2 separate regions of the Homo sapiens genome follow, and region 2 is linked to region 1. The links come from fine-mapping of genetic effects on gene expression. A gene starts in region 1. The other region holds a variant in brackets. All regions are shown on one strand. Distances are between the middles of the regions. Region 1 holds the start of NKAIN2 (sodium/potassium transporting ATPase interacting 2). Region 2 overlaps NKAIN2 (sodium/potassium transporting ATPase interacting 2).

What was found.
Region 2: its variant is fine-mapped to the expression of NKAIN2 in aorta (GTEx, PIP above 0.99).

Annotation. Positions count from the first base shown.
Region 1 is chr6:123,797,740-123,809,737 of GRCh38, reverse strand. It overlaps NKAIN2 (sodium/potassium transporting ATPase interacting 2), which reads right to left and starts at 5,873. Exons shown (of 7, transcript NM_001040214.3): 1 at 5,484-5,873. The coding sequence starts at 5,537. RefSeq lists an enhancer at 7,068-7,117.
Region 2 is chr6:124,164,543-124,176,540 of GRCh38, reverse strand. The region is part of intron 1 of NKAIN2 (sodium/potassium transporting ATPase interacting 2); the gene reads right to left. Among named protein-coding and RNA genes, the nearest start is that of NKAIN2, 370 kb to the right of the region's middle. The variant A/G (reference allele first, on the strand shown) is at 6,311.

The sequences.
Region 1 (11,998 bases):
TATAATTCAAGGAAAGAAAAAGAAAAATACTTATTTCAGGAAGATGAAGCTAGTAATTTCTTTATATATTAAGCATTTTATATCTAAACACAACTGAAGTATTTTTTAACAAAAGAAAAAGCGTAACAAATTTATTACGTGCGCACATGTGCACAGCAGTATTACAAAATATGAACTCCTGAAATACTAAAAGAGGAGAAAACCAAGTTATAAACTTCATTTCTACCATAACCTGGAGAAAGAAAATGATATAGAAGTTTATCTTGTTCCTTCATAATTTTTAAATGTGCTTTAATCTCTTGGGAATGGTAAGAACAAATGCTTCATATAATTTTATTTCCATCCTATAGAAATTAGGAATAAATAGAGTACTTATTCTATCATTGTATGAAAAAAGGTAGCCCTACATACATTGTATCTTGATGGCTTATGTATTTTATTATATTGATAATAAACAACAATCAAGTTTCCATGAGGGGAAAAAAATAACAAAAATCAGAAGAGTTCATTATATCAGAAAAAAAATGGGAAACAAATATTTTTCCTATGTGTGTGTTTCATTTCTGACATTTGTATGTTATTGGAAATAGGGTAATTTCCATTAATAGCAATATTAGTTTCAAAACTGCTTATGAAAAAAGTATACTGCACTGTTTGAAATTCTACCAAATAACATAACTGAAATACAACCTTTGGAATTGTAGGCATTATCTGTATATACGAATATTTAATGCAATTGGTGCCATTAACTTTTGTATTTATATTTCCAGGATCAACATAGAAATGTTAAAATATGTTTCTGTCTCTCAGATTTTATTTCTCTCAAGCACACACATATTAAAAATAAAAAACAAAAAATAAAGACTTCCTATTTTAAGGAATCCCTGACTTCCACTCTGAAATTCCTGACTGGGCAAGTAGAGAATCTGACCTCAAAGTAAAGCAGCATCAGAGGGAAAGGAGGTAGCAAAGCACATTTGCATTTCTGGGTCATTACCCACATACGGGCCCCATGCCAGAGATGACTCTGGCACTCTGCAGAAAAAATGCTGCCCATCCAAGCCTTTATTTGAGAAAGCAGGAGAACAGCTCCACATGGGTTGACTTTTTGAAACTTTAGCTGTATTCAAGAAAATAAGTCGCTACCTGCTTTGTGAACGAAGAAAGAAGAGTTGGACACTGGAAGAAGTTTCTAGGTATCTCCTGGTATATATAAGGCAGAGAAGAGTAGTGCTGAATTACAGTGAGAATAAATTAAAAACAAAACCATGTGCAACAATATTCAGGATGCATAAATAGAAAACATTTAAAAAGAAGAAAGTTATCATTTTACAACTTAGCAAACTCAACATATTTTTACATGATAAGTTTCTAAAGTATTGTATGGGGATTTTCAGTCTTCTTCATGAGTAAGTTTGGTTAACAACTTCAAGATTTTATCATCAATGGCATCTGAATCCTAAAAAGTTAAAATTCTCTGAGCCAGGAAGTTTTGTGGCAGATAAAGTTATAAACTTCTGAAAAACCGTCAAACTTGTCAGAAGTATACCAGGAATATCATAAGATTCTACCTGCACTTTTCAAGCTACTTCACAGCAACGCTTTATTTTCTAAAAAGTAATAAAATAGCACATGATTATGAACACTGCATAAAATCATGATCACTGAAATATTCCATAATTATAATAAAATTGTTTTTAATTTAGTCTACACTCACAACATCTTAAGGAAAAAAAATATGTACCTTTGAAAATGGTTAGCAATCCTGTGATAGAAAGTAACTGATCATTCTTAATTAAGTTTCAAATGTACTCCTTCACACAGCTGCACACACAATGTGTACTAACCTAATTGTTAGTTGCACCTGCTCCAAGTTAACAATATTTCATACAGCCCATGGCAATAGTGGCATTTTTCAAGTGTTATTCTGTGGAGTGTAAATCTAAACTTTCTTTCAATAGTTTATGACATGTTTTGTGCCACCCAGAAGTCTAAAGTACAAAATAGGGGATTTTGAGTTTCCTTACTTGAAAACAAATCTGTCCTTTCAGTCTAAATTAAGTTATATTCTTTCATATTTTAACGTATTTTTTCACACTGAGAGATATCAGAGTAATTTTTTCCACATTTATAAAAGAACTCTGATTCAATCAAACATTGGGGAAAACATGCCAAAACTTTCACAAGTTGAAAGTTACAAATAGTAAATAAGAAGTTAAAAACTTCTTGTCCTATACCACTACATCCACCATTGCAAATGCAGTGATGATTTTTGTTACTATCTGAAATCTTCAGTTTCTGAGTATTAAGGACAGCAATGATAAAAAGAAAATTACCTTCTTGAGATTATGAGCTTAAGCTCTGGATTCTGCACATGGAATAAATCTGTTTCCAGAGATCATACTCCTTTACGTAGGAATCACCCTAAAATCTGAAGTTGGCATAACCATACAACTCAAAGATTTTAATTTATGATATATATGGAAACAGTTTTTCATAAAATGGAAGTTTTGTATGAATCTCTATGGTATGGAATTCTAGTTTCTTGTTTTATAAACGGATCTCCTGATTTTTGAGAAGAGTATATGTTTATCAATACTTGTAGTCTGCCAAACATTAAATTAAATGTATATTTAACTAATTTAAAGCACAGATATAGAATTCTGACAGGTAAATGTCTCTGAAGAATCTGCCTCTGTCCCTCAATTGTTAAATGGTCAAAACACCGTGTCTGGTCTGATAATAACTTAATAAATGAGATCACCATATCCACAATACCAAAAGCCACCTCATCCTCTCCTAAGATTAGCTGCAAATTGGTACAGATGTAAATATTCCCTTAAATTTATTTAAAATACAAATACTTTGCTCCGAGGACTGGAGATTAATGTTTCCAGAACCTTAATCAAGTCACATAATAAAGCAACTGAATAAAGTTTCTAACTTAGAGTCTCTTTGGCCTTTTTTCCTGTACAGTTACCAAAAAAAAGATGCCCAAATGTTACAAGAACACATACTAAACACTTGAGAAGTAAACAAAACTGGGTTAACTTTTATTTCAGTCAATGGTACATGAGTCATAACTTAGTCTAGAAACCTGGTTTATTTGTAAAACAATCTACTCATAATAGCGCAAAGACATAAAAAGTTTTTAAAAATCTATTGAGAGCAAAAGGAAAACATACACACCCACCTATTTTTTAGTGCAGGGCTTTGCAACTATTAATTTGCAAAAGAATTATTTTATTTAAAATCAAATACCGTATTTCCAAAAAGCAACAATTACCAAGAATCTCTGAGGTCCTTTGAGGTGTGATCATTTCACCCTATCAAAACAATTGCATTTTCTTTGTCCTTTGTTTTTTGTTCTGCATCTGCGTTAACATGGCTGCTAATTATATTAGCCTGGTGGCACATAAAGTCTGAATGGGAAAAATCACATGATTCTCATATAATATAAAAACTCCTTAGGATTCCAATGTACACTTACTTAGATTGTGCTCTTCTGTATTACAGCTACGTCTATTCTGTTAGAGAACTTAATTATAATTCAGAATTTCTGTTTCATAAGTGATGGTGCAACTCTCCAAGACACCATTGTATGTATGGATGCATGCATGTACTCAAGAGCATATGTACATACACACATATGTGAGCACATAAAAACACAAAGGAACCTTTAGCTTTATCATTCTACTTTGAATAGATAGCTTCCCTACTGGTATATTTATGTTTTTCTAAAATTAAGTTCTTGAGGAGTTTGTATTCATCACACAAAATGTCATACAGACCTAGTGCATACATTTGCCATAAGAAAGCCCTATTATATTACATGATTAGAAGTTAAATCACATTTTTCAAATTTTAAATCGAAAAGAGCATAAGAATGATCTACACACCCACTCATTCTCACATTTTTATGCTTTCACACAGTGAATCAGCAAATGTATTCTTTTTCTGAATAATATATAAAAATAAGAATGTTTTGAAAACCTTTATACAGTTTGGCAGACTTAGCCTAATGGGTTGTTTAACAAAGTAAACTCCCTCATTGTTTTGGTTAGCTTTATTATTAAGAGTAAAAATCCTTCATTGCAAAACTTATATGAATCTGTGGTACAGAAAAATAAACTGGTTTACACATCATTGAGAAACTACCACATTCTGAAAATTACATTTATAGTTCCATCTTTGTCTTACAACCAAGTGCATAAGCGCATAAATCACAGATCAAAATAGACACCATCAGATAACTTTCAGGGGAAAGAAAAACATCCTAAGACAACACACAACAAAAAGCACTGTTTCAGCTAAATATTAAACAAAGCAGCAATAACTAACACTCATGGGCTTCACGACAACTGATAAACAAGAACACTTAAGGAATTCCTCTGCCAGTTTCAATGGCAAATCCTTGCTCTTTTGAACACTTTACTGATTGGACACTTAAACATCTTCTGCCTTGTAGTCACTTCAACCTTTATGAAACAGTTGTTGAAAACGGACATGACTATTCCAGTTAATTTATACTTTCTAAGGAAATATATTTAATGACAAGTGTGAGCAAGTAGCTCCTACCTCAAATTAACCACTTAGAGTGGTGTATTTTTCACCTCTCAACTCTCTACTCAGACCCTCCTTCCATTGCCCTTAGGGAATTGAAATTCAGAGACATGACGTTTTCCATTATTGGTTCCTTGCCCCTTTGCAACTGTACAACATTCCTCAAAAAGTACATAGAATTCTCCATCCTATAGGATCAGACAACAGTATCTATTTCAGGAGCAATAATATGCATAATGTAAGACAGAATAGTTTTTCTTGGAATTGTCTGTGTTAATTGTGATTTAAAGGTTACTGGTTCCGTCTATGACAATGGTGTTGCTGAGTTCACCTAAGTATTTTTGTTCAATCTGCATACTTTAAAAACTCAATGTGGCTAAAACTCAAACAGTCTAAATTAGACTGTTGTAAGGATACCATGTGCCCTAAACAGTGGTTTTTTTAGAGCATTATACTTAAAGACAACATTTTCCTTAAAAAAAGAAAAAAAACATGTCTATGAAGAAACAAAGATACTGCAAAATTAGTATAGAGAAGAAAAGTCCAAAATTCCGTATTCCTCTGTTTAACAACCTGTACGGTAAATTGTAGGTGACAATCACGTTGTTACATGAATAGGAATGCAAAGCATAAAGAACAAGAGCTACATCTTGCTTTTCCTAAAGAAATTAAAGACAAGTTTAACCCGCACCTGCCAAACTGTCTTAAAAGGGACAGAAATAGGTGGGAACGGAAAGGCTCACCTCTCCTGTACCCCAGAGTGCGTCTCCCTGAAATCATCTTCAATATAGGCAATATATCTGTCACCTTCTCTTTTATCTTTTTCGTCCATTCTAGTCAATGGCAGACCCTTTGCTGCACTCCCCTGCCCACTATCTCAAAGACACATTACAGAATAAGGGGACCCAAGTGTCACTTACCAGTTGCATGCCACAGATAAAGATAAGCGTGCACCTGCCACTGCAATAACCCATGGTTTCCGAGACCCCTGCCACAGCCAGACTGTCCCACGTCGGCCACCGTCGAGCCCCCACTTTATCCAATCAGATCGCGGGGAAGGACACGCAAACCTGCCGAGGGCTCGGGGGCTCCGGGCTGCTGCTGCTGCCAGCGTCCTGGGAAGTGACAGGCATTAGGACCTGCTGGCGCGGCGGCGGCGGCGGCGGCAGCTCCAGCCGCGCCCGCCACACATACCTTCACTCGCTCGGTGCACACGCCGCGCCGCGGGCAGTGCCGCCTGCGGAGGCGCGCTCGGGGCCCGCAGGGGCAGCAGCGGCAGCCTGGCAGCGCCGCCGCGCCCTCGGGCATCTGGCCCGCGAAGTTTCGCCCCTGCCGCTCTCCGCGCCGCTCGCCTCACGCCCCCCAGCGCGGCCGCCGCCCGACGCGCGCTCGCCCTGCGCTCGCCGCGCGCCGGCTCCGGGGGCGGCAGAAGCGCGCGAGGGCCGCTGCCCGCCTCCCTGCGCAGCCCGCGGCTCCTAGGCACCCTGCGTTGCTGGGCCCGGCGGGCGGGGGTGGGGCGGGGAGCGGGGCGCGGGCCGAGCGGGGGCGTCCCGGCTCCGCGGTCCCCGGCGGCTGCTGCAGCGGCTGCTGCGCGCAATGATGCGGGTCCGCGCCGCGTCCCAGCAGCGGCGCTGCCCCTCCCTTCGCCCAGATGTGTGAATCCTCCTCCTACAACAAATCCTTCATCCTGCTCCCTGCCGCCCCCTCCCAGGGGGCCAACTTTGAGGACCGCAGGGGCTGCCGCCCAGGCGGCCGCAGGCGGCGGTGTCTAGGCGGAAAGGAGCGGCGCGAAAGCGGCGGCGGCGGGGACCGGGGCCTCGGGGCGAGGAGTCTGGGCGGCATGACCGCGGTTTGCTGAGCTGAAGTCGGTCGTGCTCCCAGAGCCACTCCGCGGGAGCGAACCGAGTGTGTGTGTGCGCGCGCGCTCGGGGGAGAAGGGACCAAGAGGAGGGTTAGGGAAGGAAGCTGGGGTCATGGAACAGGGGTGCAACCGAGGCATCCAGAGCGGCCGGAAAGCCCGAGTGGCGGAGAGGCCAGAGGTGGCGAGAAGGGGCGCGGCGGCACCGGACGCACCGCCCAGCACCTGGCTCCCCTGGGCTCCCGAGGATCTGAAGGGTCGGAGCGCGGAGAGCTACGGAGCCGACCCTGCTTGGGGAAGGGGACCGAGTTGCTGCTGGAGTTGGGAAAAATTAGCAACCGGAGGGAATAGGGATGCAATGAGTTGCTGTTGCTGCTTCAAACTGTTGTTTGTTTTCACTTAAAATACTAAAGAGTCGGAGACTAGTTTAATACTCAGTTACTTCAGCTTCACAGCAGTCCCAGCTGGGTGTGGATTCCTAGTGGAGATGCACCAGCCTCCGCTGAGCACCGGCCTGAAAGCTGTGAAGCGGCTGCTACCTGCAGAGACAGGCTTCGGAGCCCGCTGCTGCCACCTGCGGGCGGAAAGCTGAAGGGCGCAACATGCTGGCCCAAGTGGCTGCCCCTGGGGCGTGGATATTTAGGACCAAGTTTCCTTTTTAGCCCTGGCAGCTAAGGAAAGCAATCCTAACTTTTCCAGGAAGTGAAGATTATTTGTTGAGATCCACTGAGGAACTGACTCATTGGGGTGAAGTGTCGCGATTGATAAGAGGATGGTTTAGGGAGCTAAATAGCAAACAGCTCCCTAGCACCCTTCTTAAGAGATTAAGATGACGAAGCCACATCAAGCAGAGAGCTCTCTGTAGCAACTGGAACTTGGCGCCTACTGAGAAAAATGGCATTTATACAGGATAAAGTTATGCTGGGAACCACAAATAAGGATCCCGAATGATTGCTTCCTTTGAATAAACATTATGACGTATCAGAATGACTAAATACAAATAAATTGAATAGGGCAGAGAGACTATTCTCCAGAGCCTGGCACTGAATTTTCAGAAACGTTTCGTCAGTCCTAGGGAGCCAAAAAGGGATTAACTTTGTTAAATTTATGGAGCACAGATATTTTATTGCTATAATGAGAATGTCTGGTTTTAATCGACCCATTTGTAAAGGGGCTTTTCTTCTGAAAAGTGTCTTTCAATGTTTAATAAAATTCCCAAGAGCCCAATATGTGCTCTTAGGCACTGCAAAGCCTGGAAGGTAATAGTTCCACAACCTTTGGTAAAACTGAAGCCAGTTATCTAGTGGAAAATGTTTCTCTTAGTTGCTCTTCTGTCTTTATACACGTTAGCTGTCCTGTACCTGCTAGGGCTATGGGTATTTTGCATTGCCAAACAGAAAGCTGTAAGTTAATTGACTGTTGAAGAAGCTGCTGCCATACTGTCAAAAGCATTCTATTACCTCCTCAAATTAATCATAGGAACAACACATTTATATGGATCCCTCCGTAATCCTGCAGAGGTTTCCCTGCAACCAGCAATAGCCTGAGTAATCTTTAGGTTGTATAGGAAAGCAGAATGCTATCTGTAGCTGACTCCAGCAGTGCCCCACCATAGTTCTTGGACTGTGCCCTTTCAGTCCATGCTTGCGTTTTTGTAATCACTTGGGACAGTCTGTTTTCTAGCCATTGGAGGTGCTTGGCTGAACAATAAGGTTCCAGCCCTAAGAGCTACCCTCACGCAATAATGGATGGGAATTGGAGGATAAATACCCCAGCTTCTTCAATCCTCATATGGGAAACCGTCAGACATGTTCTAGTCTACACCATTAAGGTCCCCACCGAGATTGAGCCCTAGGTGTCCACAGTAGTAACTGGCTCATTCATGCGCTCTGAATTGGCTTCCTTCCCTTCCATGCCTCATCTCCCTGCTTTCATACCACTGCTTCCTGGGATCACCTCTGAAATAAACCACTCAAATCCTTGTGTCAGAGCCTGCCTCTTGAGAATCCCAACCTAAGGCAGTCTCCAGGGGCTTTTATACCTCATCTGACGTCATTGGCACAGTGTTCTCAGAAGTGTGAACTACAAACAATGTTGAGACTTCACTATGTGCAACTACTGCCTTATGTACTAAACCTACATCGTCTCATTCATTCCTCACAGGAAACACATGAGTTGATACAATGCACATTCTAAAGATATACAAACTCAGAGAGAAATCAAATATTTTTATCACGGGTGCACGTGTTCTTGGCGGCAGAATTAGAATTTGAAGGGCATGATTATAAGACACCAAAATTCGCTTTTCGAACTACTGTACCACACTCCTTTATTTCAATATACTTCCCTGTCATTCTTTTAGAATTCCATACGAAAGTGATGACAAAAATATTTAGAAGAATAATCACACATATTTTATCTCTAAATTGGCATCACATCCTTTACATACAGTATAGGCAATGCCTGACTTATGAAAGGGCACCCTAGTTATAGATGCAATTCTATAACTTAATGTGGCTATGCACTTCCTATTCTGTTTTCTATTATTCCTGGAACTGAGTGTCTTAGTAGAAGAGACTAAAAAGAGAATCCCAACAGTTCCACAGACGTTTGTGAAGGAGAGAGATGTCTCCAATTTGAATGTTGATTGCATTTTCACTTAGAAATAAGGTCATAAACTGTTTTGCTATATAAGGTGTTAGACCTTTTGTTGACTAATATGGTGACATAAGTATTGTGAATTGCCTTGTTTCTATGGGGAAAATGTGCTGCACATTCCACACCTCCATCTGCCTCACCTTCCCGTACTGTTTTAAAGTAGTTTTCAAGGTTGTTTCAGATCTATTATCTCATTTATCTCTCAGAACAACTCATGCAATGCAGTAGGCACACAGCCACTGAGTGAACCGGGTTACAGACTGCTAACACTCAATCACTTCAGCTACACCAAAAGCTCAAGCTTGGCGTTGCAACTCTGCTAAACAATTTCACTGAGTTTTATTGCCTCCATTCATTATTTTAAATCATGAAAGCAAAAATTAGTTCTCTTGAAGATTTTTGTGGGTACATAGTAGATGTATATATTTATGGGGTACAGGAGACATTTCGATACAGGCATAGGATGCATAATAATCACATCTTTACAATCACAAAACCAACCTATTTGACTCATTGTACACATTATATATTTTATATTAACATGGATTTTTTTCTTGTTTGGATAATGATTAGGAAAATGATAGTATATTTTAAATGTTAATGGCATATAAGATGAAAATAGCCACCAATTCTTCCATCCAGAGATAATTGATGTCATTTTTATACAAACCATTTTCTAACAAAAATAGGGTGATATCATGCACAACATCTTTTAACCTGCTTTTTTTCACTTGACAATAGACCAAAAACATGTATCCAGGTTATTAACTATTAAGTTCATGGACTCTGCAGCCAGACATTGAGTTTCATAATCCAAGCTCTGCCATTTATCAACTATGTAGTCTTAGGTAAATTGCTTAGCTCTTTGTGCTTTGGTTTTCTTATTTATAAAATGGGAGGGGTAATAATGCACATATAGAGTTTTTGGGAGAATTTAGTAAGCATCAACTAAGTTAAACTTTTAGAGCAATGCTGTATTAGGGCTCTCTAAAGAGACAGAACTAATGGAATATATATATATTTATATATATATGGGAGTTTTATATATATATGTTTTATATATATGCCATATATATATATATATATATATATATATATATATATATATATATGGGAGTTTATTAAGTACTAACTCACAGGATCACAGGGTCCCACAATAGGCTGTCTGCAAGCTGAGGAGCAAGGAGAGCCAGTCCGAGTTCCAACAATGAAGAACTTGGAGTCTGATATTCAAGGGCAGGGAGCATCCAGCATGGGAGAGAGATGCAGTCTGGGAGGCTAGGTCAGTCTCACTTTTCGCATTTTTCTGCCTGCTTATATTCTAGCCAAGCTGGCAGATGATTAGATTGTGTCTACCCAGATTAAGGGTGAGTCTGCCTTTCCCAACCCGCTGACTGAAATGTTAATCTCCTTTGGCAACACCCTCACAGACACACCCAGGATCAATACTTTGTATCCTTAGATCCAATCAAGTTGACACTCAGTATTAACCATCACAAGTCTACCTTTGTCAACTTGAACCCATATGCATTTCCTGATATCATACATAATCTTCAAATAATGACAGTAATAAGGTCATAATTATGCCTAACATAATACAGCTATCTTTCATACAAACGGAAACCCACCAATCCCCAACCCGAACACTATTACATAAAGTTAACAACACTTAAATGCTCATGTGAAGTCAAAAACTCTTATGTCACATGGGAAAGGAGAAAGGAAATAAAATGAAGATATTTTCTTAGTACAAGTGTATACAAGCACAAACATATTTTTAACAAAAGAAGGAGGAAATAACTCATGACAATTACAGTCCCCATAGCTGCAGCAGGTCACCTGGTCATAGCTGGTATTGATGACTGCCTTCTTCTACTATCCATTCTGTATTCCCTTTGCCTTCAGCAAGCACCTTAGCAGGGTGTGTGTGTGAGTGTGTGTGTGTGTATGTGTGTGTGTTGTTTTTTTTTCCTGGTAGAGTGATGCAAACCTTCATTCCTGAAGGGTCTGGTCATTCGTAGTCCTGTTTGGATTGGGCTGTTGTACTTTCCATTGACCTTAATCACAGGGCATGGTAATACTAAGAGACACTCTAATGGATCTCCTGTATTTCATGCATACTCTTCCTTACCTTCGTGGTGGAGTAGTAGACTGATTTCTTCTTGACAGTCCAGGTCAGTCACCCCAGCTAACACTGTAACTCCCTTCTTAGCGTATTGACTTAAAAGTAGGAAGAGCCCAAAGTGTCTACATGGGAATTTTAACTTTCAGCTTAATGGAATCATTGGGTCTCCTGGTGGCAGCATTCCTCCTTCTGGAACTAAGACCTCTAGGCCAGCAGAATGTAATGTTGTAGGAACAGGAAGCAAACATTTTGTTAGTGCTACTTCCACTTCCACCCATTGAATCCTGGACCCATGAATCCTGGCTATGGGAGAAACAGTACCATATAGCGGGCACTGCTTCTGAGCATACACAGCCTTCTGGAGAACTTTGCCCCAGCTCTGCAAAATATTGTCACCTAGTTGGTGTTATAATTGTGACTTCAAAAGGCCATTCCACCATTCTATCAATCCAGCTGCTTCAGGATGATGGGGAACATGGTAAGAACAGTGAATTCCATGAGCATGAGCCCACTGCTGCACTTCTTTACCTGTAAAGAGAGTGCCTTGGTCACGGGCAGTGTTGTGTGGAATACCATGACAGTGGATAAGGCATCCCATGAGGCCACAGATGATAGTCTAGGCAGAAGCATTGTATGTAGGATAGGCAAACCTATATCCAGAGTAAGTGTCTGTTCCCATGAGGACAAACCTCTGCCCTTCTCATGATGGAAGAGGTGCAATATAATCAACCAGCCACCAGGTAGCTGGCTGCTAACCCTGAGGAACGGTGCCATATCGAGTGCTCAGTGTTGGT
Region 2 (11,998 bases), 370 kb before region 1:
ATGGATGTCTATTTTCACCACTGTCATTCAACATCGTACTGGAAGTTTTAGCCAAAGCAATTGGGCAAGAGAAAGCAATTTGGAAAGGCAAAATAAAACAATCTCTTTTATTAGAAGACATGATCTTGTATATAGAAAATCCCAAAGAATTCAAAATATAACCAGTAGAGCTAGTTATTAGAGACTAGCTAGTCCTGGAACCAAACTATGGGCATACTTTTTTAAATCATACTTCACAGATAATGCATTTTTTTACAAATCGAAGGTCTGTAGTAACCATGAGTTGAGAAAGCTTATCAGAGCCATTTTCCAACAGCATGTGCTCACTTTGTGTCTCTGTCAGCATCTTTTTTACAATAAAGTATTTTAAAGTATGCACTTTTTTAGACATAATGCTATTGCATAATTAATAGACTACAGTATAGTATAACCCTTATATGTACTGGAAAACCAAAAGATTTGTGTGACTCACTTCATTGCAATATTCCCTTTATTGTGATAGTCTGGAGCCTAAACTACAATATCTCTGAGGTAAGTCTGCATAAACTAGAAAATTTCTCATGAGAGGCAGCATGGAACAGTAGTGTCAGTACTTAAAAAAATGTAAAAAGCAGATTACAATAACATAAATCTACACATGTGATGAAATAAAGAGTGAGAAAGAGAGAAATAAAGGGCAAGAGAGAGATGTACATTCACAAACTTTGGAGAGAACAGTTTTGGTGGAGCAACAAGTTTATTTAGCAAATCGTAGATTGGAAAATAATGTTGAAAACCCAGTGAGGCTACATTTAAAAAAAATCTGAATTGATAAACTAAAGACTTTGGGGTTCATCCTGTAAACAGAAGGGGAAGAGTAAAAGGTTGGGATATGGGAAAAATTATATTAGTAACTTCCCATTGTATAAAAATAATGATATAAAAACAATAGATGTATCTACTAAGTGGGTAGTCATTGAAATTTGTAAACCAATCAGACTTTAACATGTAAGTGATTTTCATTTTCCCATTAGGTACAGGCAGAGGCAGTGTAGACATTATGTGAAACTCACATCATATATTTTAAGCCCTTGTTTTAACTTTTAAATGTTTAGGAAGTTTGACTATTTAAATTTACGCCAAGTGAAGCAGGCAAATCTTTTCTGAAATATTATCCTAACTATCTTAATATTGACTTCAGCTATTTGACTTTCCTGGCCTGAAGCATAATATTGTTCTTTTTTTCCCTACAAATAGTAATGCCTTCATACAGATGTGCAGCCTAGTATGCAGTCTGTGTGAGTGTAGATCTGTCACTCAGGGTGAACTGCAAGTTTCTACAAGCACTTCACGCTGTCTATGCAATGAGAGCCACATGATTCCTGCTTCTTAACAGAAGTAAAGTGCAAAGAAAATCAATAGTATTAATAACATTCAGCACCCACCTTTTGATAACCCAAGTTACAATGGTGCTTAAAAACACACTTTCTATTTATTATTACAACTGAAAATGGCCTTATTTTAATAAGGTAGATACAGGTATTCACAAAGTAAAAGGAGAATCATTCTGTGAATTAAAATTTTTATTAAAGTCCTCAGATAATTTCAAATTTACATATACATTTTACTAAAGTGGTGACATTTAAGTGGTCAAAAAGGAGCTAGAGGGACAATCTTTCAGAGATATATAAGTCAACTGCAAAGACCTTTTCAAAGGGACTGACCAATGTGTCACTAAACTATTTTTTCCTTCCTCCTGGACACCAAGGTTGCCTACATTTCCCTGCTTTTCTTTCATTAGTTGGTTTGGTCATATGACTACATTCTGGCCAATGAAATATGAGTAGAAGTGGTGCCTTCTTTTAGGCCTGACCCTTAATAATCTCTTGATGCAATCCTGCCCTCACTCTCTTTGACCATTCCCTAGTTGAAAGAATAGTTGAATGAATAGGAGTGCTAGGAATTAGAAAAGGGTGGAGTTGGACAGGGTAAGGAGGCTGAATCCCAGAACAACTCTGTAGAACAGAGTACTACCCCTGTATCTATTTAACAAGAAATAAGCTTTTATTGTGCTAAATTACTAAAATTATGAGTTTTTCTTCATTGTACTTAGGCTGCCCTAACTAATTTCTGCAAGGTAGAGATTGTGACCTTTTTATCTTTGTTTTCCTTAAATCCAGAAGTGTGCCTTTTATTTAAGGAGACACTTGAGGAAGTTTGGTTTAGAATGATTAACAGGTAAAGTTGAAAGGTGCTTTTAGTGTGAAGTTTGAATGAACAACTTCTGAATTTTCTTCCAAATTCAGGATTCTGTGGCATTCCATGAATTTTGAATTCTAACTACTGCTGTTTGGTGGGAGTTCTCTTAAGTAAGTTTCATTTTATTATGGAGTGTATGTACCACCTCGCTCATATCAAATATTCCTTTAAATTCTATAAACCTCACAATTTCCCTCTGTTTAATACAGAATATTGACTGCAATGATATCAGATTTTAAAAATAAGAAATGAATACTTCAACATAATATCCCTTCTTGCCTCAAAATGGCCAGATAAACAAAATCCCTATTGCATGCTATACATGAATGTAAACAGTATCCTTCGGCATGAAAATTTTAATCCTTTATTTTCCAAAATAATAGCTATCACCCTAGAAATCAATGATTAAAATTATCAATTATCAAAACTTTACTCTGAAGAGAAGTTTGAAGAAATAAGGAATAAGAACCATCCACTAAGTATCAATCTAATATTGCTTGCTCTACTCTATTGCACAAACCTGAAAAAACTTTCAAAAATGATGATTATATAACAAAGAAGAGGGATATTCAAATTATTTCAATTTCTCCTTACTTTCAAGAGAAAACAAGATAAAATAATATTTGATATAGGTATCATAAAGTCAGTATCAAATTTAGTTTTTAAGTATAATTTTAGAAATAATTTGATTTGGAGCAGCTTTAGCAAGATATAATACCACCATCCCTTTTTCACTCTACAGTTTCTTCAAAGGGCCTATTAATATTATGCAAAGAATCAGCTTTGCATTTTTTATGCACTTTCTTGTTGCTTCTTTAAGGCTCAATCTTTGAGGAAATTTAGTCTTTGTGAAAGGGAAGTTTTTGAGGTAGGAATAGGTATCTCACTTCATTACTGAAATTAGAATATAAGCTTAAAGCTGTTAGAGACTGGAAGACAGAAACATTTCCAGTAAAACTCCCAATCACGTACTAAAAGTAATATATGCTAAAATGAATGTGTAGAACAGGTTGGTGTTATGAAATGTTAAGAATCAACCGAATCATTTTGAATTCATATGTAAAAACTAGTCATGGTGCTTTTATAAGAGCAAGAGAGATTCTCATTTTATCATTATTCTTAATACAATTGTATATGCATTTTATATCATGCAATTAGACAATTTGAAATATTTCATTATTCAGGAGTAGATTACCATCAATTTAAACTGAGAGAGTTTTAGAGGAGACTTCAGATAATCCCCAATCATATTCTACTTCAGTTGTAAAATCAGCTATGATTTGAATTAATGCAATTGTCACTAAATTGCTTAAATGGAAAGCTTTGAGTGTATATGAGGCAATTCCAAAGGCATGTGTAGAAGAAGAAATCTTGCTCATGTGGTACAGGATAAGGAATCAAAGATACAGCCAAACTCTATATGTGAACTATTCCCACACTACATATTAAATGATAGAAACTGATTTCTGAATATTAATGTAAAGATGTTTATAAGTTGCTTGAGCTCCAGCAGATGAGTGCAACAGAATGCTGTAGCCATTTCAGATATGAAATATCTCAAAGTAAAAACCTGGACTGAATTTAAGGTGAATTTAATGTAGTAAAACAAAAAGAAGTAATGATTCCATAAGTTTATACAGATTCTAACAGGCTTTGGAACTTTTTTACTTCCTTCCACAAGAATATATACTTTTTTACTTCCTTCCACAAGAATATATACTTCCTTCCACAAGAATGATATACAGATTTTTAAAATCTGATATCATTGCAGTCAATATTCTGTATTAAACAGAGGGAAATTTTGAGGTTTATAGAATTTAAAGGAATATTTGATATGAGCAAGATGGTACATACACTCCATAATAAAATGAAACTTACGTAGGAGAACTCCCACCAAACAGCAGTAGTTAGAATTAGAATTCAAAATTCATGGAATATATTGCAACCAGGACATTCTACTTACTCTATCCCAGTGTTCTATTCAATTCTATTTCATTCCATTCCACTTCACCTGAGAAAATACTGGTTTTGATATAACAAATTTACTTCAAAAGCCAGTCATGTATTCCATGAAAGAGTTTTTTAAAAACATGCAAATTATTCAAAGAAGAATTAAAAAGTTAAAATATTCAAATCTGTTTCCAAAAATGCAAAAAACTTGTTCAACTTCACTATCATTAAAAAAATTGGGGGCTGGGCACAGTGGCTCACGCCTGTAATCCCAGCACTTTGGGAGGCCGAGGCGGACGGATCACGAGGTCACCAGATGGAGATCACCCTGGCTAACACGGTGAAACCCCGTCTCTACTAAAAATACAAAAAATTAGCTGGGCGTGGCAGCATGTGCCTGTAGTACCAGTTGCTTGGGAGGCTGAGGCAAGTGAGTGGAGATCATGCCATTGTACTCCATCCTGGGCGACAGAGCGAGACTCTCTCTCAAAAAAAAAAAAGAGTCGGCCGCGGTGGCTCACGCCTGTAATCCTAGCACTTTGGGAGGCCAAGGCAGGCGGATTGCCTGAGCTCAGGAGTTCGAGACCAGCCTGGGCAACACGGTGAAACCCCATCTCTACTAAAATACAAAAAAATTAGCCGGGCGTGGCAGCATGTGCCTGTAGTCCCAGTTACTTGGGAGGCTGAGGCAGGAGAATTGCTTGAACCGGGAGGCAGACGTTGCAGTGAGCCGAGATGGTACCACTGCACTCCAGCCTGGGCAACAGAGCAAGACTCTGTCTCAAAAAAAAAAAAAAAAAAAAAATCAAATCGGCCCTCTCTTACGAAAACTTAACATTGTTTTATGATTAGTAATATCACAAAATCTTGGTTTTCTAATTGCTTTAAGAATCTATCATAGGAGGAAAAATTATTCCAGAATGGATCCGAATAAACTGCAGAAATGAATTTTCTAACTTATATCTTTTATTCTTATGTCAAATCTTGCTGTTTCACTTCAAATTACCATGGTCAAAATGAAGAGATGAAAATCTCTAGGTCCTAAAATTTTAAAATTAGAAAGATATGCTAGAGAGCAGAACACGGGAAAATTTTGTCTTTCTGCCAACAGAATTTAGCTCCCAAAACAAAACAAAACAAAAAAAGTTCCTTAAGAATATGGCTGCAAAAAAGCATAATACCTAATGACAAGGATGAGGGTATAGAAACTGTGATAAAATTTACATTTAGTGGAAAAGTGAGAGTTGAGTGTTAGTCTTCACTTTATTTGTTTTAACCTCTTTCCCACACATCTCAAATGAAATTTTCTAAAAAAAAACCTTCACAATTATGAAAATTTGTTTTTTAAAGATAGTGACAAAAATTCTAAAGAAATCACGGTAAATTTTCTTTAAGGAGCATTTTACCAGAGTGAAAAGGTAAGCTTTGAATTGGGGAAAAAACTTATAAAGAACTAATGAGTCAAATGTGATAAATTTTGTCAGAAAATTATCAGTTTACCGAAAGAGACCACAGATATGACTGGATTATCTAGTCAGTTTAGCTAAATATAAACACCCTAGGTATCACCTGAATGTTTATTAGGAACATCCACGGAACTAAAACACATATTACTATCTTTGCTATTTATACTTTCGTATTCTAAATGCATATATTGGACATAAAAAGTGGCTTCATTGAGGCCAAATTCACTGTATTTATAGAAAATATCAAAGGATTTTGTGGAATCCAAGAAGCCACTATCTCTTTATTTAAGAAAAAATCAGTTACTATATGGGGAAGAAATGATACAGAGAAATGTTCTCTAATGAGTTACAGCACACTTTCATTGTCCAACTCTAGCCATTACATTTAATGATTTTGTCTTGACATTCTTTTGCCATACATCAGAGATACTTCTCCCTGCATACTTTCTATTTAGCAGAGAGAAATTCAGGTTAGGGTAAATAGAAAAAAATATCTATGGAAATGGCATAGTGTTCCCTTATATTCATTCAACAAATATCTCTGGAATACGTACAATATGCCAAGTTCACTGTTCAGTACACTGTTCCCAGTGTAGTAGAAAAATAAACAAGGGAACACTTAAATAACACCAAGCAATGTTGTGAAGGAACAATAA[A/G]GCAGTGGAAAAAGAGAGAGTGCAAAGAGGAGTACAAAATATTAGACAATAATGCAGGGAAAGGTGATATTTGAGCTGAGATCTGCATGAAATAAGGAAGCATCCCTGGTGAGGATTTACAGGAATAGAGATTCAGCAAGAAGAAAAGAAGGCTGAACTCAGAAAATGGTTTGCATCCCCATTCTTCTAGGAAGTCCTTCCTCACTTCAGCCCCTAAATGATGTGGCTACTGTTGGGAAGGAAACACTCTTAATAAAAACCCCAAAGTTCCCTAACTAAATCTATTTAATTACAGTACTTAGGCCTCGGCCCAAGCTGACCATTTTAAGGCTGAGCATTTGACCCAAAATGGACCAAAGAGGCTCTTTCTCTGCGATTTCTGAATAAGTGAGTCTGGGGTGAAAGTCCGTTCCACCCCAATGGTGAGGATGCAGAATGTAAAACCAGGAAGCAAACAGAGGTAAGATTTTCCACCTAAGAAGATTTCCATCCTAAGTGCATGGAGATAAGATTTTCCATTCAAAGTGCATGGAGAAAAAAAACATACGCACTAAGAATCAGCATGGCTCAGAAAGGAAAGGAGCAAGGCAGGCCAATGAGAGGGTCTCAGTAGAATTTAAGCCTGGTTGCTTGGTGAGGTGCTTAATTATTTCCTTAAGTTAACTTCTGTAAGTCAGTGAACTTATCTTTTTGCCTAAATTAATTTAATTTGAGAAACTATATTTAGGAACTAAGAGATATTAAAATATGTGCCATGGATTGTAAAATGTAGCAATTCTAGATCAGCCATCAATGTGAAACTGTAGCAAATCCCACTGCTTGGCATTTTTAATACTTAATGAGCAATAATCTTTATCTACTTTGATTGCAAAAAGATAAACTTGTGAAAAGAGCAGAATTAGCCTCTTTCAATATCCAAATTTTATCAAATGCAAATTTCTCAGAATGTAAAGAATATTATTTAGATCTAAGAGAAATAAATTTTTGAGACTATGTATATTTATTATCAGCAAGATAATACTAGAAAAAAACACAGAAATTTATCATTAAGTAATGTTATATATCTTTGGGTGCACAGTGCTATACTGGATAATAAACATCAAAATTTAAATGTACATATATGTGTCTGTGCACATATACACACACATCCAATTCTGAACATTCAATATTAAAGCACATATTGAACATGAGAAATACTGATGTCAAAAGTATACAAGAAGAGCATTTTACTTGTTTTGTGAATTTTTTAACTAGCTTTACTAAAATATACGCAAATATTTGACAAAGAACCATGGGCCTCCAAATATTCCGATTGTTAAAATGAAAATATGCCAATAATTCTGTTTGACACTGTAACCTGTAAATAGTGCAAAAGAATAGTACTCTGAAGTATCATTCACCTTACATCATTTTGGAAGTTAAACTTTGCCTCAACCAAAGGAATTGTTCTTAATATACTTAATAAAATTTACAAGAGGCTGTTACTATCATTAAGATGACTGATTCTCCTTTCAAGATAATATGTTGGTATTAGAGCTAATTTCACAATACCTAAATATTTATTAAGTGTGAACTGGCCAACACACAGGCAATGGTTCTAAAATTCATATTACTCAAAGAATGTTTTATGTTAGATATGTCATTCTTAGTGTGTAGACCACACACACACACACACACAAAATTAACAGGCTTTAACTTTTGTTATATTAATATTTAGCATTTTTCACAAAAGAAAAAATTATAACCCATGGATAACTGTCATTTTAATATTTCAATATTCCATGTATAGACAAGAATGTCTCTTTCAAATTCAGTGTATGTACAAGAGTATCCATACTACAATATCATATAATTCTGAACCATCATTAAATTCTGTTGTAGCTAAAATTCCCAGAAACACCAAATCATTTTTGGAAACTTAAAGTATGATCATTCTGATGGTATCTTTACTGGTCAGATGCATTTCAGGTGATTAGTCCTTCAGTTAACTTGTCAAATTTTACAGACTTATGGCCAGCATATATAGCAATACTAATACAAACTGACAATGATGTAATATGAACTTGTGCACTATTATAAAAAAATTAAATGTCCAATTTGCAAAGAGATGATAAACCAGGACAGATACTAATTTGATTTTGCTTCAAACTCTTCACCTATGATTCAAATGTAATGACAAATAATGTGGCATTGAGGCAGAATAAATGCTTGGTTTTTTATGTGGGTACCACATGGGTTTTGGATTCTCAAAAGAGAAGGAAATGGTTAGAAATATATCTCTATGGTCACATGTACTTTGATAAACATTACATTGCAAAGTTTCAGGAGCTCAATTCAAGAGGCTACCTAAGTACATAAAAATCACTGAATCTATAATGCATCACTGAAGTCAATATACACAAATCAATAAATGTAATCCAGCATACAAACAGAACCAAAGACAAAAACCACATGATTATCTCAATAGATGCAGAAAAGGCCTTTGACAAAATTCAACAACCCTTCATGCTAAAAACTCTCAATAAATTAGGTACTGATGGGACATATCTCAAAATAATAAGAGCTATCTATGACAAAACCACAGCCAATATCATACTGAATGGGCAAAAACTGGAAGCATTCCCTTTGAAAACTGGCACAAGACAGGGATGCCCTCTCTCGCCACTCCTATTCAACATAGTGTTGGAAGTTCTGGCCAGGGCATTCAGGCAGGAGAAGGAAATAAAGGGTATTCAATTAGGAAAAGAGGAAGTCAAATTGTCCCTGTTTGCAGATGACATCATTGTATATCTAAAAAACCCCATTGTCTCAGCCCAAAATCTCCTTAAGCTGATAAGCAACTTCAGCAATGTCTCAGGATACAAAATCAATGTACAAAAATCACAAGCATTCTTATACACCAATAACAGACAAACAGAGAGCCAAATCATGAGTGAACTCCCATTCACAATTGCTTCAAAGAGAATAAAATACCTAGGAATCCAACTTACAAGGGACATGAAGGACCTCTTCAAGGAGAACTACAAACCACTGCTCAAGGAAATAAAAGAGGATACAAACAAATGGAAGAACATTCCATGCTCATGGGTAGGAAGAATCAATATCGTGAAAATGGCCATACTGCCCAAGGTAATTTATAGATTCAATGCCATCCCCATCAAGCTACCAATGACTTTCTTCACAGAATTGGAAAAAACTACTTTAAAGTTCATATGGAACCAAAAAAGAGCCCGCATCCCCAAGTCAATCCTAAGCCAAAAGAACAAAGCTGGAGGCATCACGCTACCTGACTTCAAACTATACTACAAGGCTACAGTAACCAAAACAGCATGGTACTGGTACCAAAACAGAGATATAGATCAATGGAACAGAACAGAGCCCTCAGAAATAACGCCGCATATCTACAACTATCTGATCTTTGACAAACCTGACAAAAACAAGCAATGGGGAAAGGATTCCCTATTTAATAAATGGTGCTGGGAAAACTGGCTAGCCATATGGAGAAAGCTGAAACTGGATCCCTTCCTTACACCTTATACAAAAATTAATTCAAGATGGATTAAAGACTTAAACCTTAGACCTAAAACCATAAAAACCCTAGAAGAAAACCTAGGCATTACCATTCAGGACATAGGCATGGGCAAGGACTTCATGTCTAAAACACCAAAAGCAATGGCAACAAAAGACAAAATTGACAAATGGGATCTAATGAAACTAAAGAGCTTCTGCACAGCAAAAGAAACTACCATCAGAGTGAACAGGCAACCTACAAAATTGGAGAAAATTTTTGCAACCTACTCATCTGACAAAGGGCTAATATCTAGAATCTACAATGAACTCCAACCAATTTACAAGAAAAAAACAAACAACCCCATCAACAAGTGGGCGAAGGAAATGAACAGACACTTCTCAAAAGAAGACATTTATGCAGCCAAAAAACACATGAAAAAATGCTCACCATCACTGGCCATCAGAGAAATGCAAATCAAAACCACAATGAGATACCATCTCACACCAGTTAGAATGGCGATCATTAAAAAGTCAGGAAACAACAGGTGCTGGAGAGGATGTGGAGAAATAGGAACACTTTTACACTGTTGGTGGGACTGTCAACTAGTTCAACCATTGTGGAAGTCAGTGTGGCGATTCCTCAGGGATCTAGAACTAGAAATACCATTTGACCCAGCCATCCCATTACTGGGTATATACCCAAAGGACTATAAATCATGCTGCTATAAAGACACATGCACACGTATGTTTATTGCGGCACTATTCACAATAGCAAAGACTTGGAACCAACCCAAATGTCCAACAATGATAGACTGGATTAAGAAAATGTGGCACATATACACCATGGAATACTATGCAGCCATAAAAAATGATGAGTTCATGTCCTTTGTAGGGACATGGATGAAATTGGAAATCATCATTCTCAGTAAACTATCGCAAGGACAAAAAACCAAACACCACATGTTCTCACTCATAGGTGGGAATTGAACAATGAGAACACATGGACACAGGGAGGGGAACATCACACTCTGGGGACTGTGGTGGGGTAGGGGGAGGGGGGAGGGATAGCATTAGGAGATATACCTAATGCTAAATGACGAGTTAATGGGTGCAGCACACCAGCATGGCACATGTATATATATGTAATTAACCTGCACATTGTGCACATGTACCCTAAAACTTAAAGTATAATAATAATAAAATAAAATAAAAAAATACATAAACTGATTGTTAGAGTTGGAGGACATATTTTACTAACACATCATTTTCAAACAAACTGGTATATTGGGAAAATATAGCAAAAAAGGAAATTGAATAAAATGTAGAATTACATTCATTCATATTTTCTCACTAGTAGAAGTTTTAATTCAGGGCTGACCATTCCTGCCTATTAGCAACATTTTATTAAGCCCATAATTAGTGATTCCAATTTTTCCTCAAGGGACAGTGCACTTCTAATTTGGGAAAACTATTATTAAAGAAAGCTTCTTAATATATTTCAAGGCATATTCACATATTTCAAAATGTTTAAAATTTTTATAGTCACAATAAATGCTTTTCACCAATACCAAAAATATAAGAGCCACAGACACAGATTACCACTAAAGTATTCTTTAGCACTTAAGAAATTTTGGGCCTTAAAGAAGTAATAAAGTAATCTTCATTTTACAAGATATTAGTTATAATTAATAAGAAATATTTCTAAAACCCTACAAGATTGTCTAGAAAAAGAACCTCTGACCATGAAAGTCATTTAAATGAACAATCAAGTTATGGCTCTAAACCTAATATTCTGTCACAAATGTACCATGATTTGTTCTAACCCCTACTTGTACCAATGTAAGCATATTGTGAAGCACATAAGATGCACATTGTTACTTTAAAATAAGAAACAAATTAACAAAGAATACTCTCAATTTTCTGGTTTTGTGGCGATCCACTTGCCTTATAATTTTTCACAGCACTCCATGAATATTTTTTGTAATACGACCGCCAGTTTAATAGTTAAGCCCACACTACTTAAAACATACTTATGGTCTACCCGAGTAGCAATTTGAAAAAAATAATGCACATAAATTGAAAGAAAAAAAGATTTACTCTTACGTAATCAACATTACTAATAACATGTGTCTATTGGATGTTGTGCAACTTCTTAAAACTTGGAATCGAATTAGACAC